Linked DNA regions of Homo sapiens: region 2 is linked to region 1. Evidence: fine-mapped expression QTL. Tissue or cell type: minor salivary gland. Region 1 holds a variant in brackets; the other region holds the start of a gene. All regions are shown on one strand. Distances are between the middles of the regions.

Region 1 (8,099 bases):
CAGAAACCCTGTACCTATTAAATAATAACTCTTCATTTCCCCCTTCTCCCTACTGCTGGTAACCTCAATTCTATTTTCTGTCTCTTTGAATTTGCCTATTCTAGGAACATAAATATGTGTGGAATCATGCAATCTGTGTTTCTTTCTATGTCTGGCTTAGTTCATTCAGCATAATGTTTTCAAGGTTTCTCTGTGTTGTTTCCTGTTTCAGAACTCCATTACTTTTTTTTTTTTTGAGACCGGGTCTTACTCACCCAGGCTGGAGTGCAATGGCATGATCTTGGCTCTGCAACTTCACCCTCCCAGGTTCAAGCAACTCTTTCACCTCACCCTCTTGAGTAGCTGGGACCATAGGCGCATGCCACTGTGCCTGGCTAATTTTTGTATTTTTTGGTAGAGATGGGGTTTCACCACGTTGCTCAGGCTGGTTTCAAACTCCTGTCCTCAAGTGATCCACCCACCTTGGCCTCCCAAAGTGCTGGGATTGCAGGCATGAGCCACTGTGCCTGGCCTCTGTTACTTTTAGTTTTTTTAGATGGAGTCTAACTCTGTCGCCAGGCTGGAGTGCAGTGGTGCGATCTCAGCTCACTGCAACCTCCACCTTCCGGGTTCAAGCGATTCTCCTGCCTGAGCCTCCCGAGTAGCTGGGACTACAGGCACGCAGTACCACACCCAGCTAATTTTTTATTTTTAGTAGAGACGGGGTTTCACCATGTTGGCCAGGATGGTCTTGATCTCTTGACCTTGTGATCCACCCGCCTCAGTCTTCCAAAGTGCTGGGATGATAGGCGTGAGCCACTGCGCCCGGCTTCCATTACTTTTTATAACCAAGTAATATTATGTCGTATGTATGTAGCACATTTTGTTTATCCGTTAATTTGTTGTTGGACACTTGGGTGTTCCTACATTTTGCCTATTGTAAATAATGCTAGTGTGAACACTGGTGTGAAAATATGTTTTCGAATCCCTACTTCAAGTACTTTTAGCTATATACCTAGGAGTGAAATAGCTGAATCATACGGTAATTTAACTGTTTTGTCCAGGCATGGTGGCTCACGCCTGTAATGCCAGCACTTTGGGAGGCTGAGCTGGGCGGATCCGTCCATTTGTTTAGGTGTTCTTTAACTTCTTTCAGTGAATCTTTTGTAGTTTTTTGCAACCCCCACCTCCCGGGTTCAAGTGATTCTCCTGCCTCAGCCTCCTTAGTAGCTGGGATTACAGGCATGCACCACCACGCCCAGCTAATTTTTTTATTTTTAGTAGAGACAGGGCTTCACCACGTTGGACAGGCTGCTCTTGAACTCCTGACCTCAAGTGATCCGCCTGCCTTGGCCTCCCAAAGTGCTGGGATTACAGGCGTGAGCTGTCTTGCCCAGCCAGTATCTATTGAATAGACTCCTTTTCCAATTGAATGATGTATTAGCTTGGGCTGCCATAAGAACATACTACGGACTAGGTGGCTTGGCATAAGCAACAGAAATTTATTTCTCACAATTCCGGAGGCTGGGAAGGTAAGGTGCCAGCCGATTCAGTTCCCAGTGAGGGTTCGCTTCCTGGCTTGCAGATGGCTGCCTTCTTGCTGTGTTCTTACATGGTGGAGAGAGACAGATCTCTGGTGTCTCTTCCTCTTTTAGAGGCACCAGCCCTATTGCATTAGGGCCCCACCCTATGGCCTCATTTAACCTGTGTCACCTTCTCACAGCCACTGTCTCCCACACTGGGGGTTGGGGCTTCAACATACAAAATTTGGTGGGACCCAAACGACAAAGGGTCTAAGCATCCTTGCTGAAAGTCAACTGATAATATATGCAAGGCTTTGTTTCTGGGCTCTCTATTGTATTACATTTTATTTCCTGTCATGCCAGTATCACATTGTTTTTTATTGTAGCTTTGTATTAAGTTTTGAAATCAGGAAGTGTGAGTCCTCCAACTTTGTTCTTTTTCAAGATTGTTTTGGCTATTTGGGGTCACTTGCCATTCCATATGAAGTTCAGGATAGTCCTTTTTTTCTTTTTTTCTTTGAAGCAGGATCTCACTCTGTCACCCAGGCTGGAGTGCCATGGCACAAACTCAGCTCACTGCAGCTTCGACCTCATGGGCTCAAGCGACCCTTCCATCTCAGCTTCCTGAGTAGCTGGGACTACAGGTTCGTGGCACCACGCCCAGTTAAGGGTTTTTCTATATGTACAAAAAACACCATTAAGATTTTGATAGGTATTGAATCTGTAGATAACTTTGGGTAGTATTGTCACCTTAACAATATGAAGTCTTCCCATCCATGAACAGCAAGTGTATTTCCATTTATTTATGTGTTCTTTAACTTCTTTCAGTGATCTTTTGTAGTTTTTCAGTTTATGAGTCTTTTGCCTCTTGATTATATTTATTCCTGAATATTTTATTCATTTTAATGCTCTTGTGAATGGAATTGTTTCCCTTAATTTCTTTCTTTCTTTCTTTCTTTCTTTTTTTTTTTTTTTTTGGATATGGAGTCTTGCTCTGTCACCCAGGCTGGACTACAGTGGTGCGATCTTGGCTCACTGCAACCTCCTCCTCCCGGGTTCAAGTGACTCTCCTACCTCAGCCTCCTGGGTAGCTGGGATTACAGGCCTACGCCACCATGCCCAGCTAATTTTTTTTTTTTTTTTGGTACTTTTAGCAGAGACGGGTTTCACATGTTGGCCAGGCTGGTCTCGAACTCCTGACCTCGAGTGATCCACCCACCTTGGCTTCTCAAAGTGCTGGGATTAAAGGCATGAGCCACCACACCCGTCTTTTTTTTTTTTTTTTTTTTTGAGACAGAGTCTCGCCCTGTCGCCCAGGCTGGAGTACAGTGGTGTGATCTCAGCTCACTGCAACCTCCGCCTACCGGGTTCAAACGATTCTCCTGCCTCAGCTTCGTGAGTAGCTGAGACTTCAAACACATGCCACCAAACCTGGCTAATTTTTGTATTTTTAGTAGAGGCGGGGTTTTGCCATGTTGGCCAGGCTGGTCTCGAACTCCTGACCTCAAGTGATGCACCCGCCTTGGCCTCCCAAAATGCTGGGATTATAGGTGTGAGCCATCGTGCCCAGCCTGGCTCTGTTTTTTTTTTTTTTTTTTTTTTTGAGACGGAGTCTTGCTCTGTCGCCCAGGCTGGAGAGCAGAGGCGCGATCTCGGCTCACTGCAAGCTCTGCCTCCTGGGTTCATGCCATTCTTCTGCCTCAGCCTCCCGAGTAGCTGGGACTACAGGCGCCTGCCACCACGCCCAGCTAATTTTTTGTATTTTTAGTAGAGACGAGGTTTCACCGTGTTAGCTGGAATGGTCTCCTGACTTTGTGATCCGCCTGCCTCTGCCTCCCAAAGTGCTGGGATTACAGGCGTGAGCCACCGCGCGCAGCCGCCTGGCTCTGTTTTTTCAGGTTATGTCTCCTAATGTATCCCACTACTGCCTCCTCCAGAACTGCTTCCCTCTTCTCACCTGGGAAGGAGCATCTCTGTGTGTCTGTATTTTCAGTCCCTGGAACATCTGGCAGCCATGGCTCTTCCTCTCTCTCCAGCTAGAAGATCAGGTCAGGTTTGAGGCCTGAAAATTCTGCTGGCAGAGATGGAAACACAACACGTGCATTTCTGCTGAGAACCAAAGCCTACGGTCTGCAGAGAGCAGGCAGAGAGATTCAGCTGGACCAGGTAGGAAGGCCCAGGATGGTGGAATAGGTAGGGGCTCTAAAGATAAAACTATGTCCGGGGTGGGGAGGGATGAGGGTGAGTCATGGCTGAGGGAGAAAGAAGGGGAAAGGGAGAAAAGAGTGCAAGGTGATTAAGAGGTTCAGACTCTGGCTGGGTGCAGTGCTCATGCCTGTAAGGTTCAGGCTCTGGCTGGGAGTAGGGGCTTATGCCTGTAAGGTTCAGACTCTTGCTGGGAGTAGGGGCTTATGCCTATAAGGTTCAGACTCTGGCTGGGTGCAGTGCTCATGCCTGTAAGGTTCAGACTCTGGCTGGGTGCACTGCTCATGCCTGTAAGGTTCAGACTCTGGCTGGGTGCACTGCTCATGCCTGTAAGGTTCAGACTCTGGCTGGGTGCAATGACTCATGCCTGTAAGGTTCAGACTCTGGCTGGGTGAAGTGCTCATGCCTGTAAGGTTCAGACTCTGGCTGGGTGCACTGCTCATGCCTGTAAGGTTCAGACTCTGGCTGGGTGCAATGACTCATGCCTGTAAGGTTCAGACTCTGGCTGGGTGAAGTGCTCATGCCTGTAAGGTTCAGACTCTGGCTGGGAGTAGGGGCTCATGCCTGTAAGGTTCAGACTCTGGCTGAGTGCAGTGCTCATGCCTGTAAGGTTCAGACTCTGGCTGGGTACAATGACTCATGCCTGTAAGGTTCAGACTCTGGCTGGGTGCAGTGCTCATGCCTGTAAGGTTCAGACTCTGGCTGGGTGCAGTGCTCATGCCTGTAAGGTTCAGACTCTGGCTGGGAGTAGGGGCTCATGCCTGTAAGGTTCAGACTCTGGCTGGGTACAATGACTCATGCCTGTAAGGTTCAGACTCTGGCTGGGAGTAGGGGCTTATGCCTGTAAGGTTCAGACTCTGGCTGGGTGCAGTGCTCATGCCTGTAAGGTTCAGACTCTGGCTGGGTGCAGTGACTCCTGCCTGTAAGGTTCAGACTCTGGCTGGGTGCAGTGACTCATGCCTGTAAGGTTCAGACTCTGGCTGGGAGTAGGGGCTTATGCCTGTAAGGTTCAGATTCTGGCTGGGTGCAGTGCTCAT[GCCTGTA/A]AGGTTCAGACTCTGGCTGGGTGCAGTGACTCATGCCTGTAAGGTTCAGACTCTGGCTGGGTACAATGACTCATGCCTGTACGGTTCAGACTCTGGCTGAGTACAATGACTCATGCCTATAATCCCAGCACTTTGGAGGCTGAGGCAGGAGGATCACTTGAGCCCAGGAGTTCGAGACCAGCCTGGGCAACAGAGTGAGACCCTGTCTCTACAAAGAACCAAAAAAATTACCCAGGCGTGGTGGCTCGTGCCTGTAGTCCCAGCTACATGGGAAGCAGAGGTGGGAGGGTCACTTGAGCCTGGGAGGTTGAGGCTGCAGTGAGCCATGATTGTGCCACTGCACTCCAGCCTGGGCAACAGAGTGAAATCCTGTCTCAAAAGAAAAAAGAAAAGAAAAGAAAAAAAAATTCAGATTCATCAGGACTATACCAAATCATGCTGGGGAGACAGCAAGTCCTGCCAAGCATGAGTGGAATTCCATGGTGCAACATCTATAGGGAACTTGGAGAGAGGGGCTACCTCAGGCCCAGCCTCTTTCCTCCCTGTGGAGCTCAGGTCTGTCACGTGGAGAAAGGGTCTAGTTTCTAGGTCTAGAAAGGATGTGGAATTGCCCTCATTCTCAACAAGTGAAGTACTCAGAGAGCCTGGAGAGGGGCAGGGGAGAGGGCAGAGCCTACCCAGCCAGGTCAAGTTCCCACAGTTCTCCAGCCGCCTTTTGGTGAAGAGCTAGATGCATCCATTTCCTCCTTGTGAAATATGCAGCCACGTCATCAAATGTCACTGACCCCTGAAATAATACGTGGGTGTGGGGAAAAAGGCACTGCTAGAGATCAATTTAAGACAAGGCAAAAATAGTTTTGTTTTTTTTTAAGAGATGGAGTCTCGCTCTTTCGCCCAGGCTGGACTGCAGTGGCGCTATCTCGGCTCACTGCAAGCTCCGCCTCCCGGGTTCATGCCATTCTCCTGCCTCAGTCTCCTGAGTAGCTGGGATTACAGGCGCCCGCCACCGTGCCCGGCTAATTTTTTTGTATTTTTAGTAGAGACGGGGTTTCACCGCGTTAGCCAACATGGTCTCAATCTCCTGACCTCGTGATCCGCCCGCCTCGGCCTCCCAAAGTGCTGGGATGGGTCCACCGGCTGCCGCGCCCGGCCAAAAATACTTTTAAGTTACAGAAAAAAATAGATGGAATTCACTACCCTCAGTAATGTAACTGGGATCAAGCAGAGTGATAAAAATTACTGGAGGCAAATAAATACAGTTATGATTTCTTTTTTTTTTTGAGACGGAGTCTTGCTCTATTGCTAGGCTGGAGTGCAGTGGTGCGATCTTGGCTCACTGCAACCCCCGCCTCCCGGGTTCAAGCGATTCCCCTGCCTCAGCCTCCCCAAGTAGCTGGGATTACAGGTGCACGCCAGCACTCCCGGCTAATTATTTGTGTTTTACTAGAGATGGGGTTTCACCATGTTGGCCAGGATGGTCTCGATCTCCTGACCTTGTGATTCACCTGCCTCGGCTTCCCAAAGTGCTGGGATTACAGGCGTGAGCCACCGCGCCTGGCCACAGTATGGTTTTATTGCTTATCTTCTGTACTCACCTTTTGCTTCTCCAAGCCCCAGCTGGAAGAAACAAATCTGGTGTTCCCTGACTCTGCACCACCCAAGTCAGGGTGGTTCAGTCCCCCAGCTTCGACAGAAGAACCACATCACTCAGGCCCACAATTCCCCAAACCACAGGAAGAGCAACCAGGTTTTAGGCCCTGGTGATGGGACAGGTGGCCATGAGGCCTCCTGTGTAAACCTGGAACTTGGGAAGAGGCCTTGGAGCAACCGGCTACACCCAGAAGCTCCCACCCCAGCTCACGGGTGAAGGGCCAGTGGAACAGGAGAAGCTCCCACCCCAGCTCACGGGGGAAGGGCCAGTGGAACAGGGATGTGTTCTTCCTACAGAAAGCCTTGTGACTTCCTGCCCTTTCAGTAAAGGCTTTTGTGCATTCTACTGGAATGTCAGGTATCAAACCACTACCGCCACCGCATAGCCCTTGCCCGCCTGCAGTCGGCCTTCTGGTCCGTCTGACGCAGTCGAACTCTGCAGCGTTCACCTTGCTTCCTATCTTGTTTTGCTTCCAACTTTCCATTACAAAAAACTTCCAACATAGAGAATATTAACAACTACTTCCGACCGGGCGCGGTGGCTCACACCTGTAATCCCAGCACTTTCGGAGGCTAAGGAGGGTGGATCACGAGGTCAGGAGATCAAGACCAGCCTGGCCAAGATGGTGAAACCCCGTCTCTATGAAAGATACAAAACAGCTGGGCGTGGTGGCAAGCGCCTGTAATCCCAGCTGCTTGGGAGGCTGAGGCAGGAGAATCGCTTAAACCTGGGAGGCAGAGGTTGCAGTGAGCCGAGATTGTACCAGTGCACTCCAGCCTGGGTGACAGAGCGAGACTCCATCTCAAAAAAAAAAAAAAAACCACGCCTTCCATATCCACCTGAATTCAGCAGCTGCCGCGCTGTTGTCCTGTTCTCCGAAATGCTCTCTACATGTTGTATTTCTGGCTGAACCATTTGGAAGTGATTTGCAGCTGGTAACACATCTCCCCAAGTGTCGCAGCCCTCCTCTCAAGAATGAGACCATCACTGCACATAACCACACCTAAGAAAATTAACAGTAATTCTGTAATCTCATTTAATAGCCAGCCCATGTTCAAATTTTCCCAATGTCCCCAAAATGTCCAGTAAAGTATGTTGCCCAGTCTGGTCTCAAACTCCTGGGCTCAGCTCAAGCGATCCTCCTGCCTTGGCCTCCCAAAGTGCTGGAACTACAGATGTGAGCCACTATGCCCAGTCTCCACCTACACAGGAGAAACGGCGCCCTGTCTGCTTGTGGGCTGCCTCTTCCAGCTTTGGAACTACAGGCAGCATTATAGCCACAAGCCTTCAATACCCTATTATTTCTCAGGACCAGGCCCCTTTCTGAATAGGCCTGTGACAAGCCCCAAATTCCAGTGTCAAGAACTCCAGTAGACGGGGGAGACCCTTCTTCCTGAGCCTGCAAGTTGCAACAGAGGATGAGTGGTCCTTGTCCCTGCAGCTTTGTCCCGGGTGGCCCCTCCCCCGCTCTCATTCAGGTCATTCCATGTTCTCATTGCTGGGACATCCCTTGCGTGCGTCCCCTCATGAACCCACAAAGGGAACTCTCTGGATGTGTACACGTGGGATTCCGGTTCGCAGGGAAGTTACGTATTTTTCTGCCAAAATAGTTACTCCGCTTCCCATTTCCGCCAGCTCTGAAGACTCGCACCAGTTCCCCACATCTGTGCATTTGTTACTGTCGGGTGTTTCTTGGCC
Region 2 (8,099 bases), 24 kb before region 1:
TCTCCTATGTCTACTTCTTTCTATACAGACACAGTAACAATCTGATCTCTCTTGCTTTTCCCCACACACAGGTGGGGTCCCAGAGAATGTTCACCCATGGCTTTATGTCAGGTTGACATGACGTATCCAAGCCATATAGACGGCAGGGGTCATGGAGATTTAGCACTCACTAACTCGTTGTGCTTCACAAAACAGCACCTTAACCCCTCTCAGAAAAATTCTAACACGCACCTCCAAGCTGTCCCCAAGCATGTGCAATCTCCATCCTCCCAACCACCCCACCTCTTCCTGCTGGCATTGGTCCCTGGGGTCTCCCCTCACCCACTCCTGAATGGGTAACAGGGGCTCCTATGGACTACCCCACCCCTGAGGCACTGAAAGCACATGGGAAAACTATCTCAGAGAATCTTGTTGGAAATACCTTTTCACAAGACATAGCTCCACAATTATAAGACACTAAATTAGAAAAGCAGCGTGCATGAGGTGGGTCATGGTGGCTCACACCTGTAATCCCAGCACTTTGGGAGGCCAAGGCGGGTGGATCACGAGGTCAGGAGTTCAAGACCAGCCTGCCCAAGATGGTGAAACCCCGTCTCCACTAAAAATACAAAAAATTAGCTGGGTGCGGTGGCGGGCGCCTGTAATCCCAGCTACTCGGGAGGTTGAGGCAGGAGAATCGCTAGAACTCTGTGGGCAGAAGTTGCAGTGAGTCGAGATCGCGCCACTGCACTCCAGCCTGGGCAACAGAGTGAGACTCCATCTCAGAAAAAAAGAAAAGAAAAGCAGTGTGCATGAAAAGTACTTAGATCAGTCCCTGGCCCATAAAAAGTGCCTAGCATTGGCCAGGCACGGTAGCTTATGCCTGTAATCCCAGCACTTTGGGAGGCCAAGGCAGGTGGATCACCTAAGGTCAGAAGTTCAAGACCAGCCTGACCAATATGGTGAAACACCGTCTCTACTAAAAAATACAAAAATTAGCTGGGCATGGTGGTGTGCGCCTATAGTCCCAGCTACTCGGGAGGCTGAGATAGGAGAATCGCTTGAACCCGGGAGGCGGAGGTTGCAGTGAGCCCCGATCACGCCATTGCACTCCAGCCTGGGCAACAAGAGCGAGACTCCATCTCAAAAAAAAAAAATATATATATATATATATTCATTCATTACGGAGTGATCCCATTTTAGCCATATGTGATGGTGTGCCCATATGTGGCATACAATTATGCTACGGGGGCGCGGTAGGGGGCAGGGAGATAAGGACACATCAGTTGTTGGGGATTGGGGGTGCGGGCAGATAATGCTGGTTGGGGAGGGGAGCCAAGCTGAGCAAGACAGAGGATCACAATTTCTCATGTTTCTACCAAATTACTGCTGCATGTATGTGACAAGAAACATTTGAAGAACAATTTCAGAAGGAAATAACTTTTTTTTTGAGGCACAGTTTTGCGCTTGTTTCCCAAGCTGGAGTGCAATGGCACAATCTCAGCTCACCACAACCTCCACCTCCTGGGTTTCAGTGATTCTCCTGCCTGAGCCTCCCGAGTAGCTGGGATTACAGGTACCTGCCACCATACCCAGCTAACTTTTGTATTTTTAGTATAGACGGGGTTTGTCCATATTGATCAGGCTAGTCTGGAACTCCTGACCTCAGGTGATCCGCCTGCCTCGGCCTCCCAAAGTGCTGGGATTACAGGCATGAGCCACCGCACCCGGCCGGAAATAAATAATTTCTAACAATAAAGTTTGAACAGCAGGTTGGGGTGACGTCGGATGGCATAAGGGAGGTCACCAGGCCACTAGCACAAGCAGAGGCACTGTGTGGGGAGGGACTAATCCTGGCCTAAGAAAGATGGCTCCACCCCAGAAGGCTGGAAAACCCCATGTCCAGTGCTTGCGGCCTCGTCTGGAGTGGCTGTCAAGTGACCCAGAACTGCATAGCCCCTGCTGTGTACCAGGCTGTGTGGTCTCCCGTGAAGGTCAAGACTGAGCCCAGTCACACAGTCCTCAGGACTGTCAGGTGGATGCTGGCAGGGCCATGTCTCTTCCAGCCTTAAAGCGGCCTGGTCAGTCTCCTGGCTGCACGTAGGGTCTTGGTAGCCGCATCTCATCCCAGAGACCCGTGAGACCATCTTGGGGACCCCACAGCCTGTGTGTCCAAGCACTCTTCTCACCTCTATCCCGCACCCAACTCTCCTTCTGCTCCTCCAGAGAAGCAGATTTGTTCAGGAGTGACGGACAGGCTGGGCCTGTGGGCCAATTTTGGGCTGACCCCAGAACCCCTCACCCTGCCCCCAGGGTCCAGTCCTGCCCCTCAGCCCCTGGCCCTAGCTGTGGGCTGTGCTGCTTCCTGAGTCCCCACCGGGCAGCTCCTCCTCCATCCCCCTGCCGACCCTAGGGGAGGGCCTCCTGCAGCAGCCCCTCCTCTCCCCTGTGAGCAACAGCGGGCACAGGACACCCTTCCACCCTCTCCTGTCTCCTTCTCACGATGTCAACCCTGCCTCAGCCCCTGCAGGGTCTAGGAAACACCCCACCTCCCAGTACCGACAGCAAGCCTCTCCCGCCCACTGGGACCCCCGCCTTCACCTCCTTGCTGCCTCCCCACCCACGGCCTCGCGTGTGCTCGACAGTGCTCACTCAGCCAGGGACTCTCTCCTGGAAAACCTCTTCCCCACCATCCCCCACCCGCGGCCTCGGGGTCCCACCCGTTAGGGGCCCGATTCCGCGAAGCCCCTCTCCACAGCACGTACCGCAGGACACCCCCAGTCGGGCTGACTCTTTCCAGCTCAGGCCCCCACAGCCCCTCCCAGCCTCCATTTCTTGCTCCTTCCCCACCTCTCCCGCACAGGGTTCTGGTCAGGGTACGGTCCAGTCTCCCATTATTCGTCCACTCCGCAGCATGTGACCCAGCCCATCCCCGCTCCTTCTTCCTCGACCCGGGACCCTCCAGCTTGGCCCTCCCCACTTCCTGGGCCGGCCGGCCCTCACCCTCGGCAAGGATCCCGGGGCTCCTCTCCTCGACGCCCGACCTCTCCAAGGGCCTACAGTGGATAAGGTCCCCGCGTCCAGAAGCGCCCGTTCATCAGGGAGACGGACATTTGCCACCTGCAAACCATGACGTTCCACGAGTGGGTCCACGCGTCTCCCCTGCCCATCTCCTGCTCTGCACCAGCGAGAACCCCCTCGGCCTACACGGAAGCCCCTCACCAGGCAAGCCGGGAGCCCCAGACCCCGTGGCCCGGAGTGGGTCGCTCTGTGACACCCTGGACAGGTCACTCAACCACTTGGCGCCTCCTCGGCCACTCAGAAAACACCTGCCCTCCCGGAGACCCCGGTGAAAGCCGAGCACTCCTGCACCCTCCTTCCGAGCCCACGCACACCAGGACACCTTCAGCCGCGTCTCCTGGTGCGCCTGCGCGGGGGCCCTGGAGGAGGAGAAGTAGGCGGGGCCGGCGGCCGCTGGTGACTACAAGCCCCGGCGTGCACCGCGCTAGGCTGGCCGTGGCGCGCCCGGAAGGTGTCGCGGCCCTGGGCCCCGCCCCGGAAGATAAGGCCGCTCGCTGACGCCGTGTTTCCTCTTTCGGCCGCGCTGGTGAACAGGTAGGTCATCCTTGCGGCCTTGCGGCATGGGCAGTATCCGCCGCCATCCTCTTCCGTGAGGCGCGCTGAGACCCGGACCGGCCCTCCTGAGAGGATGCCGGTGCGGGCGCCCGCGGAGAGGGTAGGGAGTGGTGGGCGCGGCGGCCTCGGGGGCGGGGTCCCGGAAAGCCGGGCTGGCGGGGGTACCCGGGCCGCCCGGCCGCGCTAATCGTGAGTCGCCCCCAGGACCCGTCGCCATGGGCCGTGTGATCCGTGGACAGAGGAAGGGCGCCGGGTCTGTGTTCCGCGCGCACGTGAAGCACCGTAAAGGCGCTGCGCGCCTGCGCGCCGTGGATTTCGCTGAGCGGCACGGCTACATCAAGGGCATCGTCAAGGTGCGGAACGCTGGCCGGGGCGGGAGGGGAAGGGACGCCCGGCCGGAACGCCGCACTCACGCCGCCTCTGCCCACAGGACATCATCCACGACCCGGGCCGCGGCGCGCCCCTCGCCAAGGTGGTCTTCCGGGATCCGTATCGGTTTAAGAAGCGGACGGAGCTGTTCATTGCCGCCGAGGGCATTCACACGGGCCAGTTTGTGTATTGCGGCAAGAAGGGTTAGCATCGCGGCGGGGAAGGAAGGTCGGGGTGGGGAGGGGTCTGGGTGTTGCCTGAGGAGTTAACGTCCTAAGCCGATATGGGAACCTCGCAGGCAGAAGCTTCAGGTGGGGACATCCGCGTGGCCAGACCAGTGGCCACCGGTGGGTGCCGAGAGAGTTGTACCGGGAGGCTGGATGTTGAATGCTGTGCTCGCAACTTCGCGGGTTGCCTAGAGCGAGGGGGTTCGCATTGTTTCTTACTGTGCTGACGGCCTGATGCTGCTTCCCCTTGCAGCCCAGCTCAACATTGGCAATGTGCTCCCTGTGGGCACCATGCCTGAGGGTACAATCGTGTGCTGCCTGGAGGAGAAGCCTGGAGACCGTGGCAAGCTGGCCCGGGCATCAGGGAACTATGCCACCGTTATCTCCCACAACCCTGAGACCAAGAAGACCCGTGTGAAGCTGCCCTCCGGCTCCAAGAAGGTTATCTCCTCAGCCAACAGAGCTGTGGTTGGTGAGTATCAGGCAGCAGTTGAATGCTGAGGGCTGTGGGTGAACATGCTGTGAGTGCCGGTGGACAGCCAGTGGCTAGACTTGGTCCCTGGAATTCGATTACCTGTTGTTCTAAAACTTGGGTTCTGTAAGTTTGAGCTCATCCTGTAGTCTCAGTTGTCATCACTGTACAACAGGCACAACAGTACCTGCTTTACTGCTGTTGAGGCGTTAAATGAGATTGGGACGAAGTCACCAGGGTCTTGGATTCTACCGTGGGCTTCCTGATTGCTGCACTTGCATGCAGTTGGTTAACAGCCTTTTTAGAGAAGGCAGGGAGAGATTGTGGCTTTCTCAAAGACGCCTACTGAGTGAGTGAAAAAGGATTTGAGTCTAGGTTAACTCACTGTGCTGTTTGGGAACATCTTGGAATCCTTGTGATGAACTCAGCCTCGCACAGGGGAGGCTCTGAGGTTGTGTTCCTGGAATAAGTAAAGCTGAGATGGGGCAGGCTGAATCAAGTGTCTTACGTCAGGTTGAGTGGCCGGCCTGACGTCTCACACATGGTGAGGGGGGTGCTTCCCTGCGCTTGGAGCTCAGCCAGCATTCTAGGTGATGGAGGTGAGGGCCTTGGCTTGCCTGCCCATTGTGGATTGAAGAAACTGGATGTCAGCTCACAGGGTGCAAGGGGCTCCCTAGGGTGGAGGCGAGTGGGCTTTTTGCTGGGTAGTTGGATGCAGTATTGGGAAGGTGCATGACAGGAGATTGAGGGGAGGTGGGGGTGCTCTGACCGACTGGGGGTTCCCTGAGGTATCTGATCCCCTACAGGTGTGGTGGCTGGAGGTGGCCGAATTGACAAACCCATCTTGAAGGCTGGCCGGGCGTACCACAAATATAAGGCAAAGAGGAACTGCTGGCCACGAGTACGGGGTGTGGCCATGAATGTAAGTAACCCAGAAATGCAGGGTTGGGTATTGAAGTTACAGTGGCCACACTGTTGGGTAGGCAAGTCCCATCCACAGGTGTCCCTGCAGGAGGGGGATCTACGGTGGGAGGAGCAGCAGGTGGTGGTTTGTAGTCACGGGACTGTTGATCCTGCTCCAGCACTCCTGAAGGAGGTGGGCTCACCCTCCTTCACCGTTTCTCCGCAAGAAACGGAGGCTGGGAGGGGCAGTGGGGGCCTGAGCTGGAAAGAGTCAGCCTGACTGGGGTTGTCTAGCGGCACATGCTGTGGAGAGGGGCTTCGCGGAATTGGGCCCCTGACGGGTGGGACCCCGAGGCCGGGGGCGGGGGTGGTGGGGAAGAGGTTTCTAAAGCCATCTTTCTCTGCCTGCAGCCTGTGGAGCATCCTTTTGGAGGTGGCAACCACCAGCACATCGGCAAGCCCTCCACCATCCGCAGAGATGCCCCTGCTGGCCGCAAAGTGGGTCTCATTGCTGCCCGCCGGACTGGACGTCTCCGGGGAACCAAGACTGTGCAGGAGAAAGAGAACTAGTGCTGAGGGCCTCAATAAAGTTTGTGTTTATGCCACCTGGCTGTGCCCACCCCCATGGTTTCAAAGGGAGGGGTCCCTGCTGGGAGGATTTCTGTGGGATCCCCCTGGTTGGTACTGGGAGGGAGTTAGACTACTGAAGTAGACCACCAGTGAGTGGTAGAAGCTTGAAGGGAAAGTCCACAACTAGAAACGGGGTGCAGGTACCCTGGGCAAGACCCTTGCTTCCCCACAGAGGGGACCAAGAATGTGGCATCCAGGACCTGACACTTATGTGGGTGACTCAGTCCCATGGCCTGCAGTGCTTGGATGTGAACACTCATTTCACGTATCAGGAAACAGAATAGGACACAATCGTTGAGCCTGGTGTTCTGGACCATACCCTCACTCTGTCAGCTCCCTGCTAACTTTCTCAGCACCTGAGGCAGTCCTTTGCCCAGGGTCTTTTAGCGACACCCTTTCCCTCCATACTGGCTACAGCCCTGCTGATGTCAGTGTGTTTAAGTCACTGCCAGGGATACCTGGCTTGCAGGTGTCTGCCTTGCACTGGGAACTTGGGATGGGCCCTGAAGGAATGTGGGACAGGCACCCTGTCTACAGCCAGGAAGCCATTCCTAGCCTGGCTTTTACCATTCTGTTCTGCATGCATTCCCACCCCGCCATGGTGGGGAGTGGTCACTGACTGGAGGGTTCTGGGTGCTTTTTCCTGTGGGTGGTGGGTGGGGCCTCATGCCTTTCCTCATTTTCTAGCCTGATAGTGACAGGTGAGGTTGAGGGTGGTGATTGAGTGTGGGGTCCCAGGTCACTGCTGGGATTGCTGAACAAAGGGATGAATGCATGCAGTGTGTGTATGGGGAATCCCAGACCACCCAAGTCCCTTCACCCACCCACCCAGAGCCCTACACTGGACTGGAGCTGGCACCAGCAGTAGGTTGGTCTGCTCCTTGAGTCCTGTAACTCCACAGCTTCGCAGGGCATGTAGCCCCCTCTTCCCTGGGGCAGAGAAACTAACCAGGAACAGCCCCCAAAGCTGCATTGATTACCTTAAAGCACATGGCCTTTCCCTGCTGGCAGGGGCTGATACTTTGGTTCTCTCTAGCTTTGGTAGTGATGAGGCTGACAGTGATGATTGAGTGGAATCAGGTTGGAAGTGTTGGGGAACCCCCCCTGCAATGGGAGGGCAAGTAAGCTGGTTTCCGTCACAAGGCAGAGTGGAGGGGCTTCCTGTTTGGCCATAGCCCATGGCATCTTGTCCCTTAACCATGATCCAATGAGGAGATCCCAGGACAGCATCCTATCAGCACTTTCACACGAGGAAGTTCCACCAGCGAATGCAGCAGCTGCAGATCACTGCCCCTAACAACACTCCTGTGGAACTGCAGCAGGCAGGATGAGGCACGGTCTCTCCCTATAGACTTGGTTGGAGGGTGCCTGGCAGGTGAGAATAGTCACCTTAGGCTTCCGTGGTCACTCCGGGATGACAAGTCCTAACTGGCTGCGCGGTGGTTCCTGGCTGTCATGGTCCACGCTGTCTCTAGAGAACCTTACCCCCCATTTCGTGATCTTGCTTTCCTGATCCTGCTGGTATGGCCCCACCTGTCTTTGGGCGCCCACCACACCTAGGCAGTGACCCAGCAGGGCCTGTTTATTTTAGACAGGCTCTCGCTATTGCCAGGCTGGTCTCAAGCCCCTGGCCTCATGTGGTCCTCCCACTCCAGCCCCGCCTCCCCGCCAGTAACTACGGGACCTGGTTTTGATCTCGTCATTCGCAGGGCCGGTCCCAGGGTCCCAGCTGACTTGTCGAGAAAGAATCCAGGAGGGCGGTGTTTCCTCCTGAAGGATGGAGGGGCATCTGGAAAGAGGGTTTTGGGAAAGCACTAGATGCTTAGCTTGGCCATAAGCGGTCACTGTTTTTCTGCTCCCTTCTGGGCAAAGTGGACGGCAGG

What was found. PIP is the estimated chance that this variant, and not a neighbour inherited with it, causes the effect.
Region 2: it holds the start of RPL8, and the variant in region 1 is fine-mapped to the expression of RPL8 in minor salivary gland (GTEx, PIP 0.97).

The regions. Positions count from the first base shown.
Region 1 is chr8:144,764,257-144,772,355 of GRCh38, reverse strand. It overlaps ZNF34 (zinc finger protein 34), which reads left to right. Exons shown (of 6, transcript NM_001286769.2): 6 at 1-132. It overlaps LOC107986986 (a long non-coding RNA gene), which reads right to left. Exons shown (of 3, transcript XR_001746149.3): 3 at 6,849-8,099. It overlaps LOC105375805 (a long non-coding RNA gene), which reads left to right and starts at 491. Exons shown (of 3, transcript XR_001746148.2): 1 at 491-2,146; 2 at 3,539-3,695; 3 at 6,362-6,746. RefSeq lists a silencer at 3,718-4,012 and enhancers at 5,398-5,692, 6,549-7,152. The variant GCCTGTA/A (reference allele first, on the strand shown) is at 4,745.
Region 2 is chr8:144,787,861-144,795,959 of GRCh38, reverse strand. RPL8 (ribosomal protein L8) reads left to right here and starts at 3,570. Exons shown (of 5, transcript NM_001317782.2): 1 at 3,570-3,968; 2 at 4,046-4,187; 3 at 4,465-4,683; 4 at 5,490-5,605; 5 at 5,998-6,191. The coding sequence starts at 3,831. The coding sequence ends at 6,156. It overlaps MIR6850 (microRNA 6850), which reads left to right and starts at 3,969; the gene lies at 3,969-4,029. RefSeq lists enhancers at 1-236, 1,530-2,478, 4,891-5,390, 5,391-5,892, 8,075-8,099 and a silencer at 3,649-3,868.